Regions from separate parts of the Homo sapiens genome. Here regions 2 and 3 are each linked to region 1. Evidence: fine-mapped expression QTL. A gene starts in region 1. Each other region holds a variant in brackets. All regions are shown on one strand. Distances are from middle to middle.

Region 1 (8,173 bases):
TGTGAATGAATGAATGAAGTGTGTGAATGAATGAATGAAGTGTGTGAATGAACTGTGTGAATGAATGAATGAACTGTGGATGATTGCATGAATGTACTGTATGAATGGATGATTGAATGAATGTACTGTGTGAGTGAATTAGTGCATGAATGTACTGTGTGAATCAATGTACTGTGTGGATGATTGCATGAATGTACTGTGTGAATGGATGATTGAATGAATGTACTGTGTGAGTGAATTAGTGAATGAATGTACTGTGTGGATGACTGCATGAATGTACTGTGTGAATGGATGATTGAATGTACTGTGTGAATGGATGCTTGAATGAATGTACTGTGTGAGTGAATTAGTGAATGAATGTACTGTGTGAATCAATGTACTGTGTGGATGATTGCATGAATGTACTGTGTGAATGGATGAATGAATGTACTGTGTGAGTGAGTGAATGAATGAATGTACTATTTGAATGGGTGGATGAATGAAAGTACTGTGTGAGTGAATGAATGAATGTACTGTGTGTGTATGTGGGGGGCTGCTCCTGCCTGCGGGCACAGAGGAACTCTTCTGTGTGGGTGGGGGGACACCTTGCAAAGTGCTGGTGTGTGAGTTACACCTATGGATACTTATCCTGTGACCCTCAGCAGAAGGCAGGATAGAGACTTCTGGTTCACAGAAGAGGGTCTGAGAGCCAGGGGGGTTTCCAGCAAGACTCTGAGAGCATGGAGTCACACAAGATCACTCCGTCACTGGCCTGCAGTCCCTGCCTCAGTGCAGAAACAGCTCTGCCTGAGACCCCAGCCCGATCCAACCCAAGGGGCCACAGGATCCAGAAAATTAAGCCCACCTGGCCCCAGTTCTCCCATGTCCCCCTCTCTGAGCACAGCAAAGAATGCTCCCATGTCCCCTGGTGCCCTAGGGCCTTCGCAGGCGTGCTTTTGGAGGGGCCTCCCACTACCAAAGGAAGTTCCTCCTGGCTGCTGTCTACTCCAGCCCTCCAAACAAGCCCCCTCCCTTCCCAGACAAATCAGCTGTGGCCCTGCCTGGAGCACCTCCAAGGCCTCGGTCTACCACCACCCCACATCCTAGCTAGAGACCCCCAGGCCTAGGCCCACCACTGCCCTACATCCTAGCTGAAGCCCCCGAGGCCTGGGCCCACCACTACCCTACATCCTAGCTGGAGATCCCCAGGCCTGGGCCTACCACCACCCACATCCTAGCTGAAGCCCCCGAGGCCTGGGCCTACTACCACCCACATCCTAGCTGGAGAACCCCCACCCAGGCCAGGGCCCACCACCACCCTATATCTTAGCTGGAGACTCCCCCCACACAGCCTGGGCCCACCACCACCCACATCCTAGCTGGAGACCCCCCAGCCTGGGCCCACCACCGCCCTACATCCTAGCTGGAGACCCCCCAGCCTGGGCCCACCGCCAAGTGGGGGCCCCAGGTCGCAGAGCTCACTGAGACGGCATGAGGGCCGGGCTGGGAGAACAGCTCCTGCTGCCCCTGGGCTGTTCCGCAGCCTCCTTGGCCTCCTGTGAGACTGGGTGAGCCTGGAAGCCGCTGCCACGGCCAGAGCTGGACTGAGATGGGGACTGTGCCTCAGCGAGTCTCTGGAGCGGCACCCTGGCTTCCTACACAGGAACATGCCCCAGACCCGGCGCCTCCTTCCTCTCCTCAGACCCAGAGCCAGTAGCTTTGCCATGGAGCCTGTGCTCCTTTCAGCCGAGGAAGCTGTCCAGAAAGCGAGGATTGTCCAGGGATGCAGAGTAGCTGCAGTACAGCCGCCCCATGCCGCTCTGGGAAAAAGGCCTGTGGATTCGAGTCCAGCCTCTGAGCAGCGGCTGCCAGTCCTGCTCTGGGGACTCGTGGAGGGCCTGAGATCCTTCCAGGCAGATGATGAGATCGAAGCCCATTGCATGAGGGCACCTTTTGCTCCCATGCTCTGATGGGCACACGGCGGCTTTCGAGGGCTGCAGGCCAGAGCAGGCACCTGACAAGGCTGGTAACATACGCAGCCAAGGCTGGATTTTCTTCATAGACTTCAACCAACAGCACATCTCAGCAGATGAAGTGCTGGAGCCGATATGGGAATCCAGCTTCCACTAAGCCGGACAATACAAAGATTCGCACCAACGTAGAACCACGCCACTTTTCTCAGGCGGGTTTTTCATTTTTAAAAGTATGATTGCTTTTCATAAAACATTATGCTATTTATGTTAATGTGTAATAGCAATATTTTCTTATTTTTAAGTGAATTGGCAAGTATTCTGAACATTTCTGTTATGATTTAGAAAATGATAAGTATCCATAGGTATAACCCATACAAACAAAAAAGTTCTTCAGTGTCCTCAATTAGTTTTTTTTGTTTTTGTTTTTTGTTTTTTTGTTTTTTTTTTTTTTTTGAGATGGAGTCTCGCTCTGTTGCCCAGGCTGGACTGCAGTGGCGCGATCTTGGCTCACTACAACCCCTGCCCCCTGGGTTCAAGAAATTCTCCTGCCTCAGCCTTCTGAGTGGCTGGGATTACTGGCGTGCACCACCACATCCAGCTAGTTTTTGTATTTTTAGTACAGATGGGGCTTCACCATGTTGGCCAGGCTGGTCTCGAGTTCCTGACCTCAAGTGATCCGCCCGCCCTGGCCTCCCAAAGTGCTGGGATTACAGGCATGAGTCTCACTCTGTCGCCCAGGCTGGAGGGCAGTGGCACACACAGTTCACTGCAGGCTTGACCTCCCCTGGCTCAGGTGATCCTCCCACCTCAGTCTCCTGAGTAGCCGGGACCACAGACACAGTCTCCTGACTAGTTGAGACCACAGGCGCACTCCACCACACCCAGCTAATTTTTGTATGTTTTGTAGAGATGAGGTCTCCCTGTGTTGCCAAGGCTGGTATCAAACTCTGGGCTCAAGTGATCCTCCCGCCTCGGCCTCCCAAAGTGCTGGGATTACAGGCATGAGCCACTGCGCCTGGCCCTCAGTGACCTTTAAGAGTATGAAGGAGTCCTCAGATAAAAACATTTGAGAAGCACGGAGGTGGAAATTTGTCTTTGGCCTGGGGGCCTGGAGTCTAAATACTGCATTGAGTGGCTGATCTGTGGTTTTCGCTTAAAATACAGGTTAGATCATTTGTTTCTGTTTGCATTCTGTCCTAGTTGCTTCTATTTATTTTTTCTCTCTTTTTGAATCTGTGAAACATTAACAGGGTTCCAAACATCAGAGTGTTTTGTCTAAGCTTAAAAGCCCTCTGGGTGATTCCGATGAGCAGAGGCCGGGAAGGATTGAGCAAGACCATTCCCGAGCTCCTTCCTCCGCTCTGTTTCCAGATCCCATGACTGGGGACCTATAAATATTTTCCTGACATGGAGCAGGATCAACTTCAGCATCTGTTAGCTTCATCCCAAAGGCAGGGAAGCCTAGAGCCCCTGGGAGGGCTCTGCACCGCACACACCGCCGGCCTGCAGCCCCAGCCCTGTGCGGGGTCCTGGGGAGGGGGGCCCCCTTTCTGTGGCTCTTCCTGACTCCCTGCGCGTTCCACCCCAGACCCTCAGCCCACTCTGACCTCCCTCCAGGAGGGATGGCTTGCAAATGCCCTCTGGCCACAGTGCAGACCGCTAGGCTGTTCTGTGCAGCTTTAGGCCATGCCAGGAAAGAGACTTAAAGCCAGGGCCCCAAAGGCCAGGGATGCCTGCGCCGGGAGCCAGGAGCTTCCCCAGCCACTTCCAGCATGTAGACTGAAGTCAGGCCACGCACAGGGCTCTCCAGGTCACACCCTGCGCAAGAAGGTGTAGCACGCTGGCTCTAATTTCGAGAAGGTGAAAACAAGAGCCCCTCTGCCCCCACGCCCTGAGCTTTCCCGAAAGGCTTGGGGCAAAGAACTCCCCTCAGTGGCACCTAGGGAGGCACCAGGAAGGCGCTTGTTGGAACGGGAGAGAAACGGGGAGAGGGAGGAGGACAGGGGGGAGGGGAGGAGGGGAGGGGAGGAGGGGAGGGGAGGAGGGGAGGGGAGGGGAAGGGAGGGGACAGGGAGGGGAGGGGAGGGATAGGACAGACAGACAAAGAAAGGGGTGCGGCAGCACTGCCAGGGGAAGAGGGTGATCCGACCCGGGGAAGGTCGCTGGGCAGGGCGAGTTGGGAAAGCGGCAGCCCCCGCCGCCCCCGCAGCCCCTTCTCCTCCTTTCTCCCACGTCCTATCTGCCTCTCGCTGGAGGCCAGGCCGTGCAGCATCGAAGACAGGAGGAACTGGAGCCTCATTGGCCGGCCCGGGGCGCCGGCCTCGGGCTTAAATAGGAGCTCCGGGCTCTGGCTGGGACCCGACCGCTGCCGGCCGCGCTCCCGCTGCTCCTGCCGGGTGAGTACTGCGTGCCCCCGGGACACCCAGAGAGGGCCCGGGCCTCCTGCACTTTCCCCGCGGCCCAGAACCTTGTGGCACCTCCAGAGGGACCCCCAGGACTGGCTGCGACCGAGCTTTAAGGGTCTAGTCCCGGGGGCAGCCAGTCGGCCAAGGCCCCGGGTCCCTGCGACGGCGAAGGCATCCCGGAGGCCGCACCCAGACCGGCCCGGCAAGCTGCAGGGACTCGGACTGAAAACCTGCCCGTTACCCCTGGTCGCTCGCAGGCGCACGGGCGATCTAACCCCGCGCCGTCCATTCCGCTGATGGGGGTCTCGGAAGCACCGCAGGAGAGCTTTGCGGAGCAGGGAGGGGGTCGCGGGTGCTCGGGGCCGTCCTCAGAGCCCAAAGTGCCGCAGCCCTCTCGGCTTTCCACCCCGAGGCTGCCACGACGGTGCCAGCGCGCGGCTGCTCCCCTCTGTGCTCCCAGGTGATGGAAAACCCCAGCCCGGCCGCCGCCCTGGGCAAGGCCCTCTGCGCTCTCCTCCTGGCCACTCTCGGCGCCGCCGGCCAGCCTCTTGGGGGAGAGTCCATCTGTTCCGCCAGAGCCCTGGCCAAATACAGCATCACCTTCACGGGCAAGTGGAGCCAGACGGCCTTCCCCAAGCAGTACCCCCTGTTCCGCCCCCCTGCGCAGTGGTCTTCGCTGCTGGGTAAGTACAGCCCCCTCCTCGCCTCCTGCTCCACCAGGAGGGCTGCGGCGCCGGAGCCCCCCGCACAGCTGCACGGCGGCGCTTCCCAGTCTGGGGCGTGCTGACGTCGGGAGACTCTAACACCAGAATGTTTGCCGAGCGCCTGCGGTGTGCGGTTCCGGGGATGCGGTGGGGGCAGGGGGCGCTCACGGGGAGGGCGCAGGTGGGTCGCGGCAGGGGCAGCCACAGGGTGTCACGGTCCGACGTGACTGGGGGCCATGGTTCCCTGCGGGCGGCGGGGAGGGATTTCCTGGGGCGCCCCCTGGAATCCAAGCCCGACCGCAGTGTCTGACCATGGTCCGCGGCGCGGCCGGGTGGTCCTGCAGGGGCCGCGCATAGCTCCGACTACAGCATGTGGAGGAAGAACCAGTACGTCAGTAACGGGCTGCGCGACTTTGCGGAGCGCGGCGAGGCCTGGGCGCTGATGAAGGAGATCGAGGCGGCGGGGGAGGCGCTGCAGAGCGTGCACGCGGTGTTTTCGGCGCCCGCCGTCCCCAGCGGCACCGGGCAGACGTCGGCGGAGCTGGAGGTGCAGCGCAGGCACTCGCTGGTGAGCGCGGGGCCGGCCGGGGGCGGGGTCCGGGGGGCCGGGGCCAGGCGCGCTGAGCCGCTGTCGCCGCAGGTCTCGTTTGTGGTGCGCATCGTGCCCAGCCCCGACTGGTTCGTGGGCGTGGACAGCCTGGACCTGTGCGACGGGGACCGTTGGCGGGAACAGGCGGCGCTGGACCTGTACCCCTACGACGCCGGGACGGACAGCGGCTTCACCTTCTCCTCCCCCAACTTCGCCACCATCCCGCAGGACACGGTGACCGAGGTGAGTGGGCACCCCGCGTGCGCAAGGGCCGCTATGGCCCCCGCGGTGGGGACGGGGCTGGGGCCTGGCTGCACCCTCGCCTCCCAGCCCAGGACAGCCGCTTGCGGCTTTTGTGTGGAAGAGGCTCTGCTTCTAGCGCCAGCAGTGAGCAAGGGGGTGCAGCCCTCCCATACTCTCCCAACCCGGGGTCACAGCACCGCAGGGAGGACAGCGGGACGCGCGTCCCGAGGAGGCTGCCCCTTCCTGGCCTCGGTTTCCAGCCCGTGTTCCGTGGGATGGCTGAGAGGAGTACATGGGACCCTGTCCCCAACAGTGGTGCAGAGGGCACGCTGGACGCTGGGCAGTGGCCCCAGTGAGGCCATACGCATACCAGAAGGTGGGCTTCTCGGACCCCAGGCCAACCTCCTCTTCTTCCTCCCCAGATAACGTCCTCCTCTCCCAGCCACCCGGCCAACTCCTTCTACTACCCGCGGCTGAAGGCCCTGCCTCCCATCGCCAGGGTGACACTGGTGCGGCTGCGACAGAGCCCCAGGGCCTTCATCCCTCCCGCCCCAGTCCTGCCCAGCAGGGACAATGAGATTGTAGACAGCGCCTCAGGTAACGGACATACAGGTCACATGGGACACACAGCAGCCCCGAACCCTGCCACAGGGCGACCACCAAACCCGAACCTAAGGCTCTGAGAAATTCCAAGTAGGGATTCGTAGTGCGTACTGCAAGATGGTGCCTAGAAGATTTAGGATTCTGTTGATTCACACACTGAAGATGTGACTCTTGCACATTATTTGCAGTTGAAAGCATCTTACAGGGCCACAGCCCAGAGGAAAGAATGAAAGGAGGCTCCAGACAGTACCTGAGAGACTCTGTCCTGTCAGACACGCACCCACAGGTGACCTGTGTGTCACAGCTGACAAGGAAGCTTGCTAGGATGGCCCTGTGTGGCCACCGGGTGACAGCTATGCTGCAGGGCACCTGTGGGGGTCTCGGGACCCAGCCACCACACAGCTCGGGGCTCTGCTCACAGGCGCCTTGGCCTGGGGCGGGGCAGGTGCTGATGAGCATTCTCCTAGCTCTTCCAGGCACCTGCTGGACAGGGCAGGCTGGGAACGCTGGGGCCGAGTGGCAGTTCCCTCCCTACTCAGCTGGGTGGCAGCCACTGGCCTCACGGAGCGCCTGTGGTCTGGAGCGCATTGCTGGGTCGTGGGTCAGGGCCTGTTGGCTCTGGGTCTCTGGGTCTCACCTGATATGGGTGTGGGACAGTCAGTGTAGGCCCCAGACAACAGCGGACTTCAGACTTTCCCGAGGAGGAACTGGAGCCCACCAACCTGGCCATGGGCCCCGTCGTCCTCCACCCTCCATGTTGCTGGCTGGAGTTGAGGCAGGTACGGGGCCGCCCCACACCTGCCCCCCAAGCCATGTGGTAGGGACAGATGTCGTCTTGAGGAGCAGCAGTAATTACAAGCTTACTGTCAGCCGTCCCTGGAAGCAAGGGCCAGGTCAGGTCAGACAGGAGGCCGCCTGGCTGGCGGGAACCACTCCCCAGACAGAGACTGTGCCCAGTCCTGGGTCCCTCCTCATTTGGGATGAACTGGGCCTCCCTGTGCCAGCCTCGGTGCTGCCCCTGCCCAGTGCAGGCTTGGGCTCCTCACTCATTTGTCCACGCGGATGCCCCATTCCAAGCAGATGTCCCCGAGCCACTTACCCAACAGGCAGACGTGCCAGCACTGTTCGTGGTGTGCAACTGGTCTGGCGGGAAGAGCCCCTCGTGGGCAGAGGGTCCAGAGAGGTGCGGTTTGCCCCACATTTGGGGGCACTGGGCCACAGTGGGCAGGGGAGCACATGGCCAGTGCCCTGGGCTAGGAGAGGGATAAAGTCAGCTGTGGCCAAGCAGAAGCAGTATTGCAGGGGAAGGGTGGGGAGAGACTGTGCTATGAGCTCTGAGCAGGAGGCAGGACATGGAGAGAAGGGTGGGAGACGGACAGAGCCAGCTGTGCCAGCCGAGGGACCAGAGTGGGCAGTGGGGACGGAGCACAGACCACCGCCCACAAGGGTCTCTCCTGTGACTTCTGGCTTCCCGAGGGCAGAGGCTGGGATGGGCATGTGGCGGCTGGCACCCAGGAGGCTCCGCCAGGTCCACGCCAAGCCAGCCTGGCTCAGCTCTGGCTTCCTGCTCACACGCTGGATGCCTGTCCCCAGGCCTCCTGACAGGGCTCTGCAGCATTGGAGAGGCTTGTGGTGGGGCCCTCGCTGTAGAACAGGCACTGCCAGTGCTCACTGACT
Region 2 (8,173 bases), 22 kb after region 1:
CGCCTGTGTCATCTAATCCCTGCGACAATGCACTGCCCCTGCCTTATGGGTGACGGCCCGGAGGTCCGTCGATCTGTCCACACTCACGTCACTGAGAAGCAGTGTAGTCAGACAGCCCAGGCCCTCGGCTGCCAGCACTTGCTCCAAACCACACGATGCATTCTTTCCATCTTCCCACTTCTTTCCAGAGTGCTCAAAAGGGCTCGCTGAAGCATTCTCATGATGGTGCACTCACATACAAAAAACAAGCGTGTGCAAAAATGTGAGCACGTGAGCTTTGCAGCCGAGCTAGCTGTTCTCTGCCACTGTCAAATGCCCGGTCCCCGTGATGCAGTCCTGCAGTGATTAGTCACATAAGACGTTGCACTGGGGGCGTTGACGAATGGGTCACAGGACCTCTGCACTATTTTTGTAACTTTTTGTTAGTCTACAGACATTTTTAAATAAAAGGTTTAAAGAGAAAACACCGGATGTCGCAGCTGAAAAGACCTAATGGATCACTAAGTGATTTTCACTCCTTTTTTAAATGAGGAAACAGACTTAGTCTCTTCAGGGCACGCGCTCTTCCTAGTCCAGGTGGTTCCACTTTAGCCAGGTTCCCTTCCTCCCACCCACAGGTCCACACCCACCTCCCCCGCACCCAGACTCCTCCCAACCCAGCCTTCCCCCGGCACCCGGCCTCCCCCAACACACCCAAACTCCCTCCCACACACCCAGCTCTCCCCCACCCACCCAGACTCCCTTCACACACCCAGACTCCTCTCACACACCCAGCCTCCCCCAACATACCCAGACTCCCCCCAGACACCCAAACTCACCCCTTACACCCAGCCACACCCCCCCACACCTAGCCTCCCCACCGCACCCAGCCTCCCCTCGACATGCCTAGCCTCACCCCCACACCCAGCCTCCCTCCCCTCCTGCCTACACCTGCCTCCCCATCTCTCATTTCTCATACTCCATGACACCATCTTCATTAGAAGCTTCTTCACTCCATCAGAATGCTTCAACATCTTTTCAGTGGCGGATCAGAAAGAACTCTGCATCATCAGCTTGGAAAGGCCCCAAATTCTTACGCCTTTTTATCTTGTTCGTCGGATTTGCTGCAAGTATCTGCCCAGTGTCAGCGCCACGTGTCACTTCTCACAAAAATCAATTTTACAAAATTAGCCAGTGAAATACAAACACCCACTAACCAGTGGCACTTGCAACGGATCCATTTCAAAGAAAGTATTATCAGAAGTGGCTCAAGCAACAGAAATGCAAATGTTAACATTTCTTTTATGTTTTGGTTTTCCATTTTCAACTGCCTTTTATTTCCACGCAGGGGAACGTGAGGAGAAATGCCTAATAGAAGACATTCCAAGCGACACACTGGTAACAGGTAAGTAAAATGTGCTCGGTTAAATGTTGAACTCCAGAAGTGGTTTTACAGAATTCTGCCATCCTCTACGTCCATATTACTTGGCAGTGAACATAATGCTGCATGGTTTTCTCTTGATCATTTATCAAGTTATTCAAACCTAACAGCCTTAAGAGTGAATGGTAAAATTCATAAAACAGGAAATCTGGACAGTGTTCCCTGGAATCCAAGCTTGATTTGTTTTCCAGTTGTCAATGTTCCTCAGTAAAAGCATCTTGGATGCCATTTCTCACTCTAATAGTGGTTGAACATTCAAAACGTACGTGAGGTCTTTAGACTGTGCAGCAAGACAGGAGCACAAGTCGCACGTCCTCTGTGCCCTGACCTCCTGGTGTCCACAGAGCCATGGGGAGAAGGCATCGTGGTGGGTGTGCAAGTGCAGATCGGAGACTGTTTTCCAAGCAAACGGCTAGTAAAAGCTGCTAACACCATGGTGAGTTCCACACGTTTCCCACACTGCCACCAAGCACAGCCCCACACAGCTGAGCTTCACCTGCCTTCTGAGAAAGAAACAAGTACCTGTGGTGTCAGAACGGTGTAGAAAATCCAGAATATGCTTAACATTTAGGCCACAATCAACATCAAATTCCCGGGTTTTAATGCAAAAAAAAAAAAAAAAAAAAAAGGAGGGGGAGTAGGAAGAAGAGAATCTAGTGATATTCCTCACAAGTGCTGATTACGTATTTTATATCCCATTCAATCTTACAATGAATACTGTTGAATCCTCTTTTCAATTTATCTTGGTCATTACCTTTGAGTGTGCTATTGCAAAAAGTAATGACCCATCCTGCGAAAGATTAAGTAAATGCATCAAGCATGGAGGCAGAGAAAGAAACAGAGCAATGTGAGATCAAGTTTTGGGATGAGTAGCATGGAAAAAATAGCCAGGAAGAGAGCTGGGTGGTCTTAGAGCCCTCGCTGCTGCTCCGACACTGTGGATGAAGCCATATTTGGGACTCTGGAGTCTGTACAAGCCTGCCTGGATCCAAATCCCAGTCTGTCACCTGAGAGCTGTGTGCCACTGGGCAAGTGACTTACCCTCTGTTTAATTTGTGAAATGCAATGATGATTAAAAAAACAAACATCTATTTCTGTTGGTTGTGCTGATGATTAGGTTACTCTTTGTAAGGCTTTTACAACCTAACCCAGCTCACAGAAAGTACTGTGTTTGCTCAACACGTTCTCTGAGCCCAACGATCTCATCCCACGGGAAGCTTGGCCCCTGAGGTAAATAGCCCTGGGTAGCCGGCTGTTTTCCTGGTAACATATGAATTTTCCAGCCTGCAGTTGAAGGGGCAGAAGAAGAGGAAGGGGGACAGTGCTGGCCTGTCCACTTGCCTGTTGCCTCATGGCCCATCAGCTGGATGGGCTCACCCAGGACCCACTGGGACATCTCAAGGAACTGCAGCCACCTGAGCCACGGCGGCACTGGCAGCAGGAAGGCAAGTGTGGCTAGAGAGTGTCCTGACAGCTGTGTCAAGACAGGGTCTCAGTGATGACACCACGGTCCATCTAAAGTGGCTGGTGCCATCATGCCAGCTGCAGCAGGGAGGCACAGCCAGGGCTGCATGCTCCATGGAACTGGCAGGAGCTGCGGACAAGCAGGAGCCCTGCCCCTTCCGAGTTGGGTGGTAGCTCTCTGCAGACTTAGGCATCCCTGTGCTCTCGGGCCGGGAGCAGATGGGTGCCCCACTCTCCTGGGCACAGCTGCAGCCACTGAAGTCACAGCTGTAGACCCAGACCTCCTGCTCCACAGAGCAGGCAGAAGCCCCACCCAAGTCCCAGCTGCAGATCCAGGCCTTCTGCTCCATGGAGCAGGCAGGAGCCCCACCCCTCTGGGCACAGATGCAGCTGCCCAAGTCATGGCTGCAGACCCAGGCATCCCTGTGCTCCTGGAAGCCGGGAGCAGAGAGAAGCCCCTCTCCTAGGCGCAGCTACAGCCACCCAAACCATGGCTGCAGACCCAGGCATCTCTGCACTCTAGGGGGCCCAGGAAGCCCCATCCCCGGCCTTCGCAGGTTTGGAAGTGCCTGCTTCTGCTGCCTGGCTTCTCCCTGCTGTCAGTGTCCACTTTGATCTCAGAGTAAAGTCAGGGCGAGCCTGGGCACTGTTGCAGCCTGGCCAGGTGTGCACACGCTCAGGGCAGTGCTAATACACCAGCCCCCTGCTGCCTCAGCACCCTCCAGACTTTAAGCACCGAGAATAGGAGGGAAGCCAAGGGTGGGCTGAGGGTAGCTTGGCACTGGCCTGCAGGCACCCCTTGGCACCTATAGCCTGGACACCATGAATAGCAGCAGGACGCAGACAAGTTCCTGGGTGGAAGAGGGCAGGTCCCTGGTGAGGCCCCCACCTTCAGGCCAGGGAGGTCCTGAAGGCTGGGGACTGGGCTGCCAGTCCTGCAGACCAGAGTGGGAACTTCTGGTGCCTTTACCCATGACTGCCAATGTACCAATCACAGTGCACTTCCTCCCCTCTAAGGCCCATAAAAGCCCTAGGCTCAACCAGAGCTGAGCAGACATCAGGGCAACCAGATGCAGAGAGGAGCTACCCATTCCATGGCCTCCTCTCTGCTGAGAGCTGGGGAGACAACAAGAGGACCTGCCTGCAGAGAGCAACAGCCCACTCCAGGGCCTCCTCTCTGCTGAGAGC[C/T]GCAGGCACAAAGGGATGGCCCGTCTGCAGACAGGAGCAACCCACTCCAGGGCCTCCTCTCTGCTGAGAGCCTCAGAGATGACAGGATGGCCTGCCTGCCAAGAGGAGCTTCCCACTCTACGGTCTCCTCTGTGCTAGGAGCTGAACACGCGTTGTGACACCCTGGCTGTGGAAAGGAGCTGCCCCTGCGGGTCTCCTCTGAGCCGTTGTATCGCTCAATAAAGCTCGTCTTCCTCTTGCTCACCCTCCACTTGTCTGCAGACCTCATTCTTCCTGGTCACAGGACAAGAACTTGGGACCCGTCAAATGGCAAGGCTAAAAGAGCTGGTATAACACAAACAGGGCTGAGACATGCCCCTTGCTTGCCATGCTATGGGGGAAGAGAAGGAGAGAAGAGCTGCAGCCCTTCAGGGAGCCTAGACTTGGGAGCCCCCCAGGCCAGGAACAAGCAGGAGCCCTGCCCCTTCTGAGTTGGACTCCCTCTTTGGGGCCCTGTGGTTCCTGGCATACTGCATTCCCCAGTGCCAGCTGTGGAAGCTGCTTGCAGTGCACCTGGTCCAGCTGCAGCCTTGCAGAGAGTGGGCGCCCATGCCAGCACTGGAGCTGCCCACCTTGCAGCAGCTGCGGGTGTGCCTGACTGCACAGTGGCTGGACCCCATGCTCACTCACACACCCCTCACTGCTCTGTGCCTGACTCGCTCTTGGCAGGTGTGGGATCCAGGCCAGTAGCGTGAGTTGAGTGCAGCATGCCAGGCTGAGTGGGCAGAACAAGCCCAGTGGGCCCAAGCAAAACTCGGGCAAGGGTGCCACCAGCCACAGAAGTTTCCAGCTAGAAATGTGACACCCCAAGGATCCTCTGGCAAGCGGTCCCATCTGGCTGGAAGACCAGGGCCCACTGTGGCTGGCTCCCTCACCCAAGTCAGGAGCCTCTGGAGTCCTCCTTCCCACGGATGCTGCTGTCCACGCCTCCCTCCTCAGTTCCTGCCAAGGCTCTTCTCTGACTGACTGCTCCTCCTCACCTGGTCTTCCCAAGCCTCCCTACTCTCTGTTCTTCCCACTCAGCAGTCTCCTTAACCATCACCCTTGGGCAATTATTTAGATTTAGAGCTTGGCTACTTAAAACTCACTGTTATGGAAAACTTTGAAAGTGCATCAGGGCCAGGCATGGTGGTTCACACCTGTAATCCCAGCACTTTGGGAGGCCGAGGCATGTGATCACTTGAGGTCAGGGGTTCAAGACCAGCCTGGCCAACATGGTAAAACCCCGTCTCTACTAAAAATACAAAGAAGAAAAAAAATTAGCCAGGAGTAGTGGTGGACACCTGCAGTCCTGGCTACTTGGGAGGCTGAAGCAGAAGAATCACTTGAACCCAGGAGGCAGAGGTTGTAGTGAGCCGAGATCGCGTCACTGCACTCCAGCCTGGGTGACAGAATGAGACTCCATCTCAAAAAAAAAAAAAAAAAAAAAAGGCGCATCAGGCCACAGTTTTAACTTTTCTTTAAAAGAGAACAGTATGCCCTTAAAGTCCAAGAGCTACAGACTGGTCCTGGAAGCCATCCTGTGGGTCTGGTGCTCCTCACCCACTGCCCTGTGGTGGAGGAGCCCACACCTGCCCCACACCCTAGTGCCAAGGGAGCCTCTGCACTGGCGCTCTGGGGTGGCTGCTCGCCTTTTCCTTGCCGGGGAGCACAGCCCACAGCTGTCCATAGTGCAGGAACTACATCTCCACAACTGTATCCAATCATCCTTGTTCTGCCATCTGGGTCCACTCAAAATAAATACACATTTTTTCACCTGAAAGTCCGTCATAACTGAAGTCACAGATTCCACCCATCCCAGATTTCTCTTTGCAGGCTAACTCTCCTTAGTTGCCAAGTGCGCGGTTTTGCTCCAGTTTGTAACACACATGCGTGAAAGTATCTCGTTTGGGTCAAGCTAAGAGCTGGGAGCTGAAGACTCTGTAGGGCAAGACAGGCGAGCTCCCTGGGCCTGCCCCTGCCCCTGCCCCTGACTGCATTCAGCAAAGAAGCCGCAAAGCATGTAACCCAAGAAAGAAGAACTCACCGCTGACCCAGGACAGCCAGCCCAGAGGAGGCCGAGGGAGCAGGCTGTGGAGACTGAGGCAGGAGGGTGGAAGGCTCTGGCAAAAACGGGGGATGGGCATAAGACAAAAGAAGACTATTACTCAGACATGGAAAAACCGAGGACAGAAAATGGGCAAATCGTACAAGGAGAGAAAAGCAAACCAAACTCATCAAAACCAATTAAACAAACAACCACAAGTAAGTCATGGTCCAAATATGATGCCCTCAATTTCCCACAGATTGAGTGGTGCGAAGCTGGCTGGGGGGAGAGCCGGGATTGGCCTTTTACCTTGGCTGCTTTGGTCTACCAGCAGGCTGCTGGGACACAGGCCCTGTGCTGGGGGACGGGGATGGGGACAGGAGGATATCTGGGTCCCCTTCCCAGTTTCATGTCGCTCATAAAAGTGGTCATTTTGCTCTGTGTCAGCAGGGACACTTCCGGTTTGAAGGTGTATTAGGACTGAATGAGCTCTTTGAGGGCATGAACTCTTCTATTAACCTTTGTATCCCCAAAGCCTATTGCAGTGCCTGGCACATGTGGAGTGAGTGCTTTTAATCAGAACTGAACAAACTGCAGGATGAACTGTGGTTCTAAGACTTCCACACACATTGAGACGAATTTGAAAGTCAGATTCTAATTACAAGCATGCAGCCAGATGTGGATGCATCTCACTTCTTGACTTGGCTGAAAACTAACATACAAAAGCCTTTCTGAAATCCATTTCCATGATATCCACGGTGTTCTAAACTCTCCCTGTCAGTGCCATTTCCATGATATCCATGGTGTTCTAAACTCTCGCTGTGGGTGCCATTTCCATGATATCCACGGTGTTCTAAACTCTCCCCATCAGTGCCATTTCCACGATATCCATGGTGTTCTAAACTCTCCCCATTGGTGCCATTTCCATGATATCCACGGCGTTCTAAACTCTCCCCGTCGGTGCCATTTCCATGATATCCACGGTGTTCTAAACTCTCGCTGTGGGTGCCATTTCCATGATATCCACAGCGTTCTAAACTCTCGCTGTCAGTGCCATTTCCATGATATCCACGGTGTTCTAAACTCTCGCTGTCAGTGCCATTTCCATGATATCCACGGTGTTCTAAACTCTCGCTGTGGGTGCCATTTCCATGATATCCACAGTGTTCTAAACTCTCCCTGTTGGTGCCATTTCCATGATATCCACGGTGTTCTAAACTCTCGCTGTCAGTGCCATTTCCATGATATCCACGGTGTTCTAAACTCTCGCTGTCAGTGCCATTTCCATGATATCCACGGTGTTCTAAACTCTCGCTGTGGGTGCCATTTCCATGATATCCACGGTGTTCTAAACTCTCCCTGTTGGTGCCATTTCCATGATATCCACGACGTTCTAAGCTCTCCCTGTCGGTGCCATTTCCATGATATCCATGGTGTTCTAAACTCTCGCTGTGGGTGCCATTTCCATGATATCCACGGTGTTCTAAACTCTCGCTGTGGGTGCCATTTCCATGATATCCACGGTGTTCTAAACTCTCCCTGTTGGTGCCATTTCCATGATATCCACGACGTTCTAAGCTCTCCCTGTCGGTGCCATTTCCATGATATCCATGGCGTTCTAAACTCTCCCTGTCAGTGCCATTTCCATGATATCCATGGTGTTCTAAACTCTCGCTGTGGGTGCCATTTCCATGATATCCACGGCGTTCTAAACTCTCCCTGTCGGTGCCATTTCCATGATATCCACGGCGTTCTAAACTCTCCCCGTCGGTGCCATTTCCATGATATCCATGGCGTTCTAAGCTCTCCCCGTCGGTGACATTTCCATGATATCCACGGCGTTCTAAACTCTCCCCATCGGTGCCATTTCCATAATATCCACGGCGTTCTAAACTCTCCCCATCGGTGCCATTTCCATGATATCCATGGCATTCTAAGCTCTCCCCGTCGGTGCCATTTCCATGATATCCACGGCGTCCTAAGCTCTCCCCATCGGTGCCATTTCCATGATATCCACAGCATTCTAAACTCTCGCT
Region 3 (8,173 bases), 31 kb before region 1:
GGGCCCAGAACTTGCCCCGTGGGGGCCGGGAAGCACCCACCATCCCCACCCCTAGCTGCTCTCAGCCAGAGCCCAGCTGGACTTGCAGGATTGATTTTCCAGCAAAAAACAACAGCAGAGAAACCCAAGAGCAGCTGCATGAGCCCTCCCAGGCCTACCCCCGCAGCCGGCACTCCCTGCAGCAAAGAAAACCATCTGGCCACTGGGCCCTGAGCCCGGCGCCCGGAGGAGGACCTCTGCCCCGCTGAGCAGCTCTGCTCCCCAGGCTGGCCCTGGGCCTCTCGCGGCCTGACCCGCTCCCCTTGGCATCAAGCACCAGGAGGGACGGGGTGGCCCGGCCAGGGCGTGGGTGTTCCCCGGCCCCTCTGAGCACCAGCACCTGGTGAGTCTACCTCCGCTTCCCCAAGCCCTTGACCACTGCCCTGGACAGCCTCAGCCGCCCCCTGACCCGACCTTCAAACGGGCCAAGGGCTTCCCATGTAGGGTCCGAAAACATCCCTGATAGGCAGGACATGAGACTTGAACAATATAAGGTTAGGTGCATCTGTAAGCGCGGCGCATGGTTAGGCAGCCGGACCCTCTGGAGCATGTGTAAGCGCGGCGCATGGTTAGGCAGCCGGACCCTCTGGAGCATGTGTAAGCGCGGCGCATGGTTAGGCAGCCGGACCCTCTGGAGCATGTGTAAGCGCGGCGCATGGTTAGGCAGCCGGACCCTCTGGAGCATGTGTAAGCGCGGCACATGGAAACAGCGGCTCTTCTGGGTGGCCTCTCTGCTGCCCTTTCTTTTTTAAACCAGCTACTGACCCCGTTGGTCAGTGGTAGCAGTGTCTGTAGGATCCCACTGTGGAGGGCTCGCCACTCACTATCCAGGTCCCTGATGCAAGCTGGCTCCAGCTGGGGGTGCCCACTGTGGGGACGCCGGGGCCAGCCGGGGCCAGGGCTGTGGACACTGGTGGGACGGAGGGTGTCGAGCAGCCGGACTCACCCACATCCCTCCCAGCCCCTACAGGCGTCTAGGCCTCCGGCCTCCACCCCCTCTGTGCAGTGGGCAGTCACACCTGGCGGGGCCCGGCTGCCTGCCCAGACAGCAGGTTCTCAGCAGCAGCCCTGGCGTCCCAGGTCAGCCTCTGCCCAGCCCCACATTCACCTGACAGTGCCTCCCGGGCACTGCCCTGCACCTGCCCACACCAACTCCAGCCTCCTCCCCGTGCTCCCCACCCGCCCTGCACCTGCTCACACCTAACCCCATCCACTCCCAAATGACACCATCCACCCCCACCCACCTCCAATTGCCCCACACCTGCCCCACACCTGCCCCCACTGCCTCTTCTCCTGTCCCTATCTCCTCCCACCCTCCATGTGTCTCCCACCTATCCCCTCACCTGCTCACACCTGCTCACACCTGTCTGCCCCTCACCTGTGCACTCGTGGTCAAAGCCATCTGCTTTTACACCTACCCCACACCTGGGGTTCGCCTTAGACTGGGGTTTGTTCTCTGCTGCTGGCGGGGTCCCGGCTCTTCTGCCCCCTGAGGGAGACCTCACAGGGCAAGGCCGCTTCCCTACCATGAGCCTCAGGCCCTGCCTCCCCTCTCCGCCTGCAGAGCTGAGCCTGGGGAGGCTCCTTCTATTCCAAGAGCCCCACTCAGCCCGCTGGGTCCCCGTTCCCTGAGGAGCTGCTGCTTTTGCTGGGCGCCCCAGCCCTCCCACAGGGGACACATCTGTCCTGGAGAGACCACCTAGGGAGGCATTTGCTGTTGGTCCCTGCCCCGGGCCCTCCAGGTCACTCCCTCTTCTCGTCTGTCACAGCGTGGCCCTCTGGCCCCACAACCTGGGCTGCCGGCCTCCCCCTGCCCTGGCAGAGCAGTGGTGGGGCCAGACCAAGGGCTGACAACCGCCAGCCCCTTCAGCTCGGCCTAGGCCCACGGTCAGCCCAGGGGAGCTGGGGGCTGCAGCCGGGTGGGTGAGTGGCACCCGCAGACCCTTGGCAGGGCCCTCTCCAGTCCTGGGTGCCCTGAGAGGCTGCTGGGGTCCAGCTGCTGCCCGCTGGCTCCCGTGGGGGCACACATGAGGAGCAGGGAGGGGGGCATCCTCCTGTTCATGGCCCCGGGTCAGCCTTGGGTAGGGCAGGGTCACCCTGACAGCCCCCAGCCCAGTACCAGGGGAGGAGACCAGGCAGGAGAAGCCCTCCCTGGAAATGCAAACCCAATGCTGGGCGTGGCCTCCTCCCAAAAGCTCCGCCCCCAACCCCCCACTCCCTGGTCAGGGTTGGGGGCCTGGAGGGAGACAGAGGCCAGGAGGCAGCCAGGGGAGCTAGGGGTGGGCATCGGGCGGAGCATGGCTTCCTGCGGCCCCAACCCCCAGGCCCGAGCGAGGAGGTCTCAGAGGCCCCTCCTGGACCTTTCTGCCCATCCAAGCTGAGGGTCCCAGTTTGTCAGCCGAGGGCCTGCACAGCTTCAGGGGTGAGAGGGGCCCCTGGTGGGGCCTGGTCAGGTGTTTGTGGGTGGGACATCTGAGTGAGGGAGCCTGGGCGGGCCTGGAGGCCCTGGGGCCGTGGTGACGCCAGCATCTCCCCTGATCAACACCAAATGATGCCCCTCCCTGGGCCCCCACCCTTCCCAAGGCTGCCGTAGGCACTGCTGGCAAAAGCCTCGGATGCTTGGGCTGGCAGGGAAGGCCAGGCGGCTCCGATGGGGCCTCTGGGGACAGGATTGCGGGAGGCCAGGATCCTCGTTTTTAACCCTGAACCTTAGCACCTCTGCAGGGTCCCCCAGGTGCTGGGCACGGCTCTCCCTGGACAAAGCCCACAGCTCCACGGATGCCAGCTGCAGTTCTAGTAAAGATGTGGACATGGAAACCGAGGGGCAGGGTTTGCCCCTGGGTGCAGCTGCTCCGAGGAGGCCCCAGCTCAAAGGTGCCTCCCCCCATGCCCAGTTCAGGCATCGGGCCTCAGCCAGCGCCACCTCCTGTGTCCAGGAGCTCCGGGCATGGCCTCTTCCCCAGGACCTCAGCCGGGTGCTGTCTCCACCCACAGCCAGTTCCTGTCCATGTGCCCCCAGGGCCCTGCCCTGTGCAAAGTCTGGTCAGCGTTACGGGGAGGGCGTGGCGAGGGCACAGGGAGGGGACAGCTGGGTCTTCCGCCTTAGCCACAGGGACAGGCCAGGCCTCACAGCCAAGAGCCCCGGGAAGAGCTGCATGCACACGGCTGGAGAGAGGCTCTGCACCCGAGCACAGCCTGCTGCGACTCCTCATAGACCCGGAAAACTGATTAGAAGGCAGAGGTGAGTTTCGGAGGGTGGCTGTGCACAAAATTCAGAGTCAGGAATCAGCATCTTTCAAATTCAAGCACTTCCAGTTAGGAGAGACAATGAAGAAAGAAAAGGGACCATTCCCAACAGCAACAAAAATTGTAAATTTCTAGGAGCAAACGGCGGGCACATCTATACCTGTTATAGAGGGTCTGAGGCCTGACTGAGGACCACAGACCAGCAACAAGCCCGGTCTGTCCTGGGCGTCACGAGGTGCCGTCCCTCGTGCTGGCCGGCTGCCACAGCGGGGCCAATTAAAACACCGGAGAACCCTGGAATCAGGTAGATTGATTGTGAAGTTAACGTGGAAAAATAAGTAAGAAAACTAAGGAAATTCTGGAACAAAAGATGAACAAGGGAACCGTGGCCACCAGGTTTTAACACACACCGGAGGCTGCACCTAGGGAGCCCCGTGTGGAGCTGGTGCGTGGGTCGCTCACAGTAACAATGCGAACGGTGAACACGCAGGCATTACAGACACGCCAAAAGGACGTTTTGAATCAGTGAGAGGCTGTGTTCAGATCAGCAGTGCAAAGCCACCCTCCCGGGTCTGTATCCTGCAGACAGTCAGTGCCCGTCTAATATTCTGGGGACCCCTGCACATCAGGCTGAGGTCATGGGGTCACACAGTAGCATTTCTCTGCATTTCTGGCTAATGACTGAGCAGAAAGGATGTGTATCGGCTCCAGGGTAAGGTAGTGAAAAACCAGTGTGCTAAAGAACTCTCACAGCTCAGCAATACAAAGATAAACAACCTAGTTAAAAAATGGGCAAACTGGGAGAGGCCGGGCGCAGTGGCTCACGCCTGTAATCCCAGCACTTTGGGAGGCCAAGCTGGGGGGACCATTTGAGGTCAGGAGTTTGAGACCAGCCTGGCCAACGTGGTGAAACCACATCTCTACTAAAAATACAACAATTAGCCACCACGTGGTGGTGCACGCCTGTAATCCCAGCTACTCAGGAGGCAGAGGCAAGAGAATTGCTTGAACCTGGGAGGCAGAGGTTGCAGTGAGCTGAGATCGCGCCACTGCACTCCAGCCTGGGTGACAGAGAGAGACTCTAACTCAAAAAAAAAAGGCAAAAGAATTTGAATAGATGTTTTTTCCAAATAATATATGCGACCAGCCAACAAGCTCATGACAAGCTGCTTAACACCATTAGCCACCAGGGAAATGCAAATAAAAACCACACGAGACCACACCTCACACCCACTGGGATGGCTGGAACCGAAAGCATCATAGGTGTCAGGG[C/T]GGAGACGTGGGAACCTCACATGCGGCTGTTCTGTTCTTCAAAGTGTGAAGCCGAATTCCATGTGACCCAGCAATCCCACTCCTGGGTACACGTCCCCGAGAATCAGAAACAAAAGCTTATCCACACAAAAGCTTATCCACAAATGTTCCTGGTAGCATTATTCACAATAGCCCAAAGGTGGGCACAGCCTACATGTCCATCTGCTGAGGGACAGATGGGCACATTGTGGCCTGGCCCCACACTATTCTTCACCCGTAAAAAGGAATGAAGCTCTGGCCCATGCTCCAAAGTGGATGAACCTCGCAAACATTTGCCAAGTGAAGGAGGTCAGACGCAGACGGCCACATATCACATGAGACCATTTATGTCAAATGTCTGGAATGGGCAGGTCCACGGTGACACAGAGTAGACTCCCAGCTGCCCGGGGCTGGGGGCGAGGGCACAGCTGGGGGAAAATGGGAAGGGTCTTAGTCCATCCCCGCTGCTGTAACAAAACACCTCAGACTGAGTAATTTATAAGCAACAGAAATTTATTTCCTGTAGTTCTCAAGCTGGGGAGTCCAAGATCCAGGTGCCGGCAGGCTGGGGTCTGCTGAGGGCAGCTCCAATGGCGTATCCAGCCTCACATGGCAGAATTCGGAGGAAAAACAGCCAAGCTAGTTCCTTCTAGCCCTTTTATAAGGGCCCTGAGGACAGAATCATGGCAAGGGATGAGACCCTGGGGCACCTTTGGGACCGCAGAGCTCACTGCCTGCCTGGGTCTCCCCCGATCCTGGCCCAGCCCTCCTTGGCCGCCCCAGCCATGGCTCAGGCAGGTGCAGGCGCAGCTCCAACCATCGCTCCCAAAGGCACATGCGGGGGGCCTTGACGGCATCCACGGGGCGCTGACACTGCAGGCGATGGTGGCCTGCACCCAGATTTCAAAGCATGTTGCTGACAGCCTTGGGGCCCAGGCAGAGGCTCATCGTGGGGTTGGAGCTGCCTCGGAGTCCCCACCGAGGCTATGCCCACCGGAGCTGAGGTGGGGGCTGCCTCCGAGACCCCAGGACTGCAGGGCCACCAGCGAGCAAGCACAGCCTGGGAGAGCGGCAGGCAGGAGACTCCGACCCATGAGCACTGAGTGGGCTGAGCCCACAGAAGCCGTGGGGGCCCAGCCCTGCCCCCATGTGTCTGGAAGGTGGGCAGGGAGTCCAAGATCATCCCCTGTTCATGTATCCTATGAGTCCTGTCCCTCTAGAGAATGCTGACTCATATGATTTTGTATGTGAGAGCGGTGAGTACTGGGCCTGGCGTGCAGTGCCGTGGTTGGAACGTTTCCGTCCTCTAAAGCTCAGGCTGAAACTTAGACCCCGTGGAGTGCCGGGAGGTGGGGACTGATGGGAGGTGTTTGATCCACTCACGAGGCAGAGCCCTTGTGACTAAAGCCACCATGAAAAGGGCTTGTGGGGCAGACCCACCCTCCAGCCGGTGAGGATGCGACGTGCAAGGGCCATCGTGGAAGAGGAGAACCCAACCTTGGCCTCCAGACGGGGAGGCAGGAAGTCTCTGTTGATAAACTGCTGTCTGATGTTCTGTTGTGGCCTCACTCAAACCGTGGCGGGGAGCGGTTGCTAACAGGCACAGGACGTCTTCTGCGGATGATGAACGTGTTCCGGAGTGAGATGAGTGGGGATGGTTGCACAACTTCGTGAACATGCTAAAAACCACTGAATTGTACACTGTAAAGAGTGACTTGTGAGCATGTGAATTTCATCTCAATGAAGCTGTTTTGCGGGAGCCAGGTGAAGCACTGTGGAGGCCACGGCTCAAGAAGGCAGCACCGGCTGGGCGAGGTGGCTCACGCCTGTAATCCCAGCACTTTGGGAGGCTGAGGTGGCTGGATCACGAGGTCAGGAGATCGAGACCATCCTGACTAACACAGTGAAACCCCGTCTCTACTAAAAATACAAAAAAATTAGCCGGGCGTGGCAACCGGCGCCTGTAATCCCAGCTACTCAGGAGGCTGAGGCAGGAGGATGGCGTGAACCCAGGAGGCGGAGCTTGCAGTGAGCCGAGATCACGCCACTGCACTATAGCCTGGGTGACAGAGCAAGACTCTGTCTCCAAAAAAAAAAAAAAGTCAGCATCAGAAAACCAGAAACTGCGCGCGGACCTCAGTGTGGCAGGCACTCCCGGGGTGCAGACGGGGTGAAGGCAGCCTTCTCTGTGGTCACGTGCATGTAACGGCACCTTCTCTCTCAGGGCCTCCTCCCTCCCTGCGTGGTTTGGGGGCTGTTCCTGATAGCACAGATGCCCTGATCACAAACACCTGCCTGCATTGCTGACCACAGGCCTGGCCTGGAGAAACCCACAGCCTCTTCAGGGAAGCGAGCAAGGGGCTTGGAAGTGCCTGAAGCCAGTGGGCTGGGGACTCACGGCCGGGACACTCAGGGCAGGTAGGGCGGGCATGGGGCCCCAGCATGGCACAGGGCCAGACCCACCCCCTCTTTGTCACTGCCCACATACTGCGGGGGGAGGGGCTGGAGGAACTGGGGCACCTGCATTTGGCCTGCAGGGAATCTGGGTCCCGCTGGCTGTGGGTGACCGCAGAGGGCCATGTGGGCAGGGTGCATCCATGGGCGCCCCAGGCCAACCTCGTCAGGGTGGGAGGGGGAAGGGCCAGGAAGCCTCAGCCCAGACCAGGTATGGTGGGAACAGTCCACACGGGAGGGGCCAGAACCGTCTAGAAGGCCCTGGCGTACAGGTCTGCTGCAACAGAGCCAGGAGGGCACGGGGGTGCCCACATCCAGGGCAGAGGCACCACGTGGTGCTCAGTCAGTGGTCAGGGTCAGGCCTGGTTGGTGGCATTGAGGACACTGCAGACTTGGCCCCACCTCCAGGAGCTGGGCTTTCTCCACTTGCTCACAGCAAAGGCAGGGACCAGAGGGGTGGGGGGCTGCACCCACCCTCTCCTCGCTGCTCCCCTCCCCCTTACCACCCCGTCCAGCGATGTCCACGCAGATGGGAGAGTTGTGAGGGTCGTCCACACCTGGCCTGCAGTGGCTGCCCAGCTTCCTGCTAGGGAGATGGGGCCGGTGCTGATGGGGAACAGCTGTTGTGGGGGCAGCCAGAGGAAACCACGTTCCCGTGGGGTGAGCTCATGGTTTACACGTTCCCTGCCAGATCCATAACATCCTGGAGGCAGAAGCGCAGAGGCTGAGCCCGCCCCCGCCCCCGCTGAGCCTCCCCTGCTCTGACACCAGGGCGGCTCAGCCATCCTCGCTTAGCCTGCACCTCCTGTCCTGAAGCCCCTTCCTCCCTCCACTTGCTCCCTCTGTCATTTACTCCCCAGCCCCGACCCACCCTGCTCACCCCTGAAGCTTCTCTGGGTCCTGGACTCCGTTCTGCAGGCTGGACGCCTTCTCAACTGTCCGTGGAGCCTGCCTGGTCTCTGGGGGTGTTGAGTGAGGGGTGACCCAGGAAGAACGTGTCAGAGACAGTGGACAGGGAAGCGTTTCTCACCCCTTAACTCACAGCAGCCCCACCGGGCGGACACAACCATCAACCCAGCCGCAGGTGTAGAAACTGAGGCACACAGACGCGATGTGGCTGCCCGTCTGGTAACTAGCAGCCGGG

What was found. PIP is the estimated chance that this variant, and not a neighbour inherited with it, causes the effect.
Region 2: its variant is fine-mapped to the expression of SPON2 in nasal epithelium (TOPMed, PIP above 0.99).
Region 3: its variant is fine-mapped to the expression of SPON2 in whole blood (TOPMed, PIP above 0.99).

The regions. Positions count from the first base shown.
Region 1 is chr4:1,168,719-1,176,891 of GRCh38, reverse strand. It overlaps SPON2 (spondin 2), which reads left to right and starts at 4,309. Exons shown (of 6, transcript NM_012445.4): 1 at 4,309-4,348; 2 at 4,818-5,040; 3 at 5,406-5,629; 4 at 5,702-5,893; 5 at 6,316-6,490. The coding sequence starts at 4,821. The region is part of intron 1 of LOC124900647 (nascent polypeptide-associated complex subunit alpha, muscle-specific form-like); the gene reads right to left. RefSeq lists enhancers at 3,696-4,413, 4,414-5,129.
Region 2 is chr4:1,146,814-1,154,986 of GRCh38, reverse strand. All of the region lies in intron 1 of LOC124900647 (nascent polypeptide-associated complex subunit alpha, muscle-specific form-like), which reads right to left. LOC124900837 (hornerin-like) reads right to left here. Exons shown (of 2, transcript XM_047416541.1): 2 at 1,287-8,173. The coding sequence ends at 6,827. Among named protein-coding and RNA genes, the nearest start is that of SPON2, 22 kb to the left of the region's middle. RefSeq lists enhancers at 4,228-4,728, 4,729-5,229. The variant C/T (reference allele first, on the strand shown) is at 4,073.
Region 3 is chr4:1,200,089-1,208,261 of GRCh38, reverse strand. It overlaps LOC124900164, which reads left to right and starts at 7,005. Exons shown (of 1, transcript XM_047416479.1): 1 at 7,005-7,636. The coding sequence starts at 7,005. The coding sequence ends at 7,619. LOC100130872 (a long non-coding RNA gene) reads left to right here. Exons shown (of 4, transcript NR_024569.1): 2 at 3,146-3,280; 3 at 6,800-6,993. It also overlaps a transcript of LOC124900647 not described here and a transcript of SPON2 not described here. RefSeq lists enhancers at 5,915-6,114, 7,355-7,574, 8,070-8,173. The variant C/T (reference allele first, on the strand shown) is at 4,558.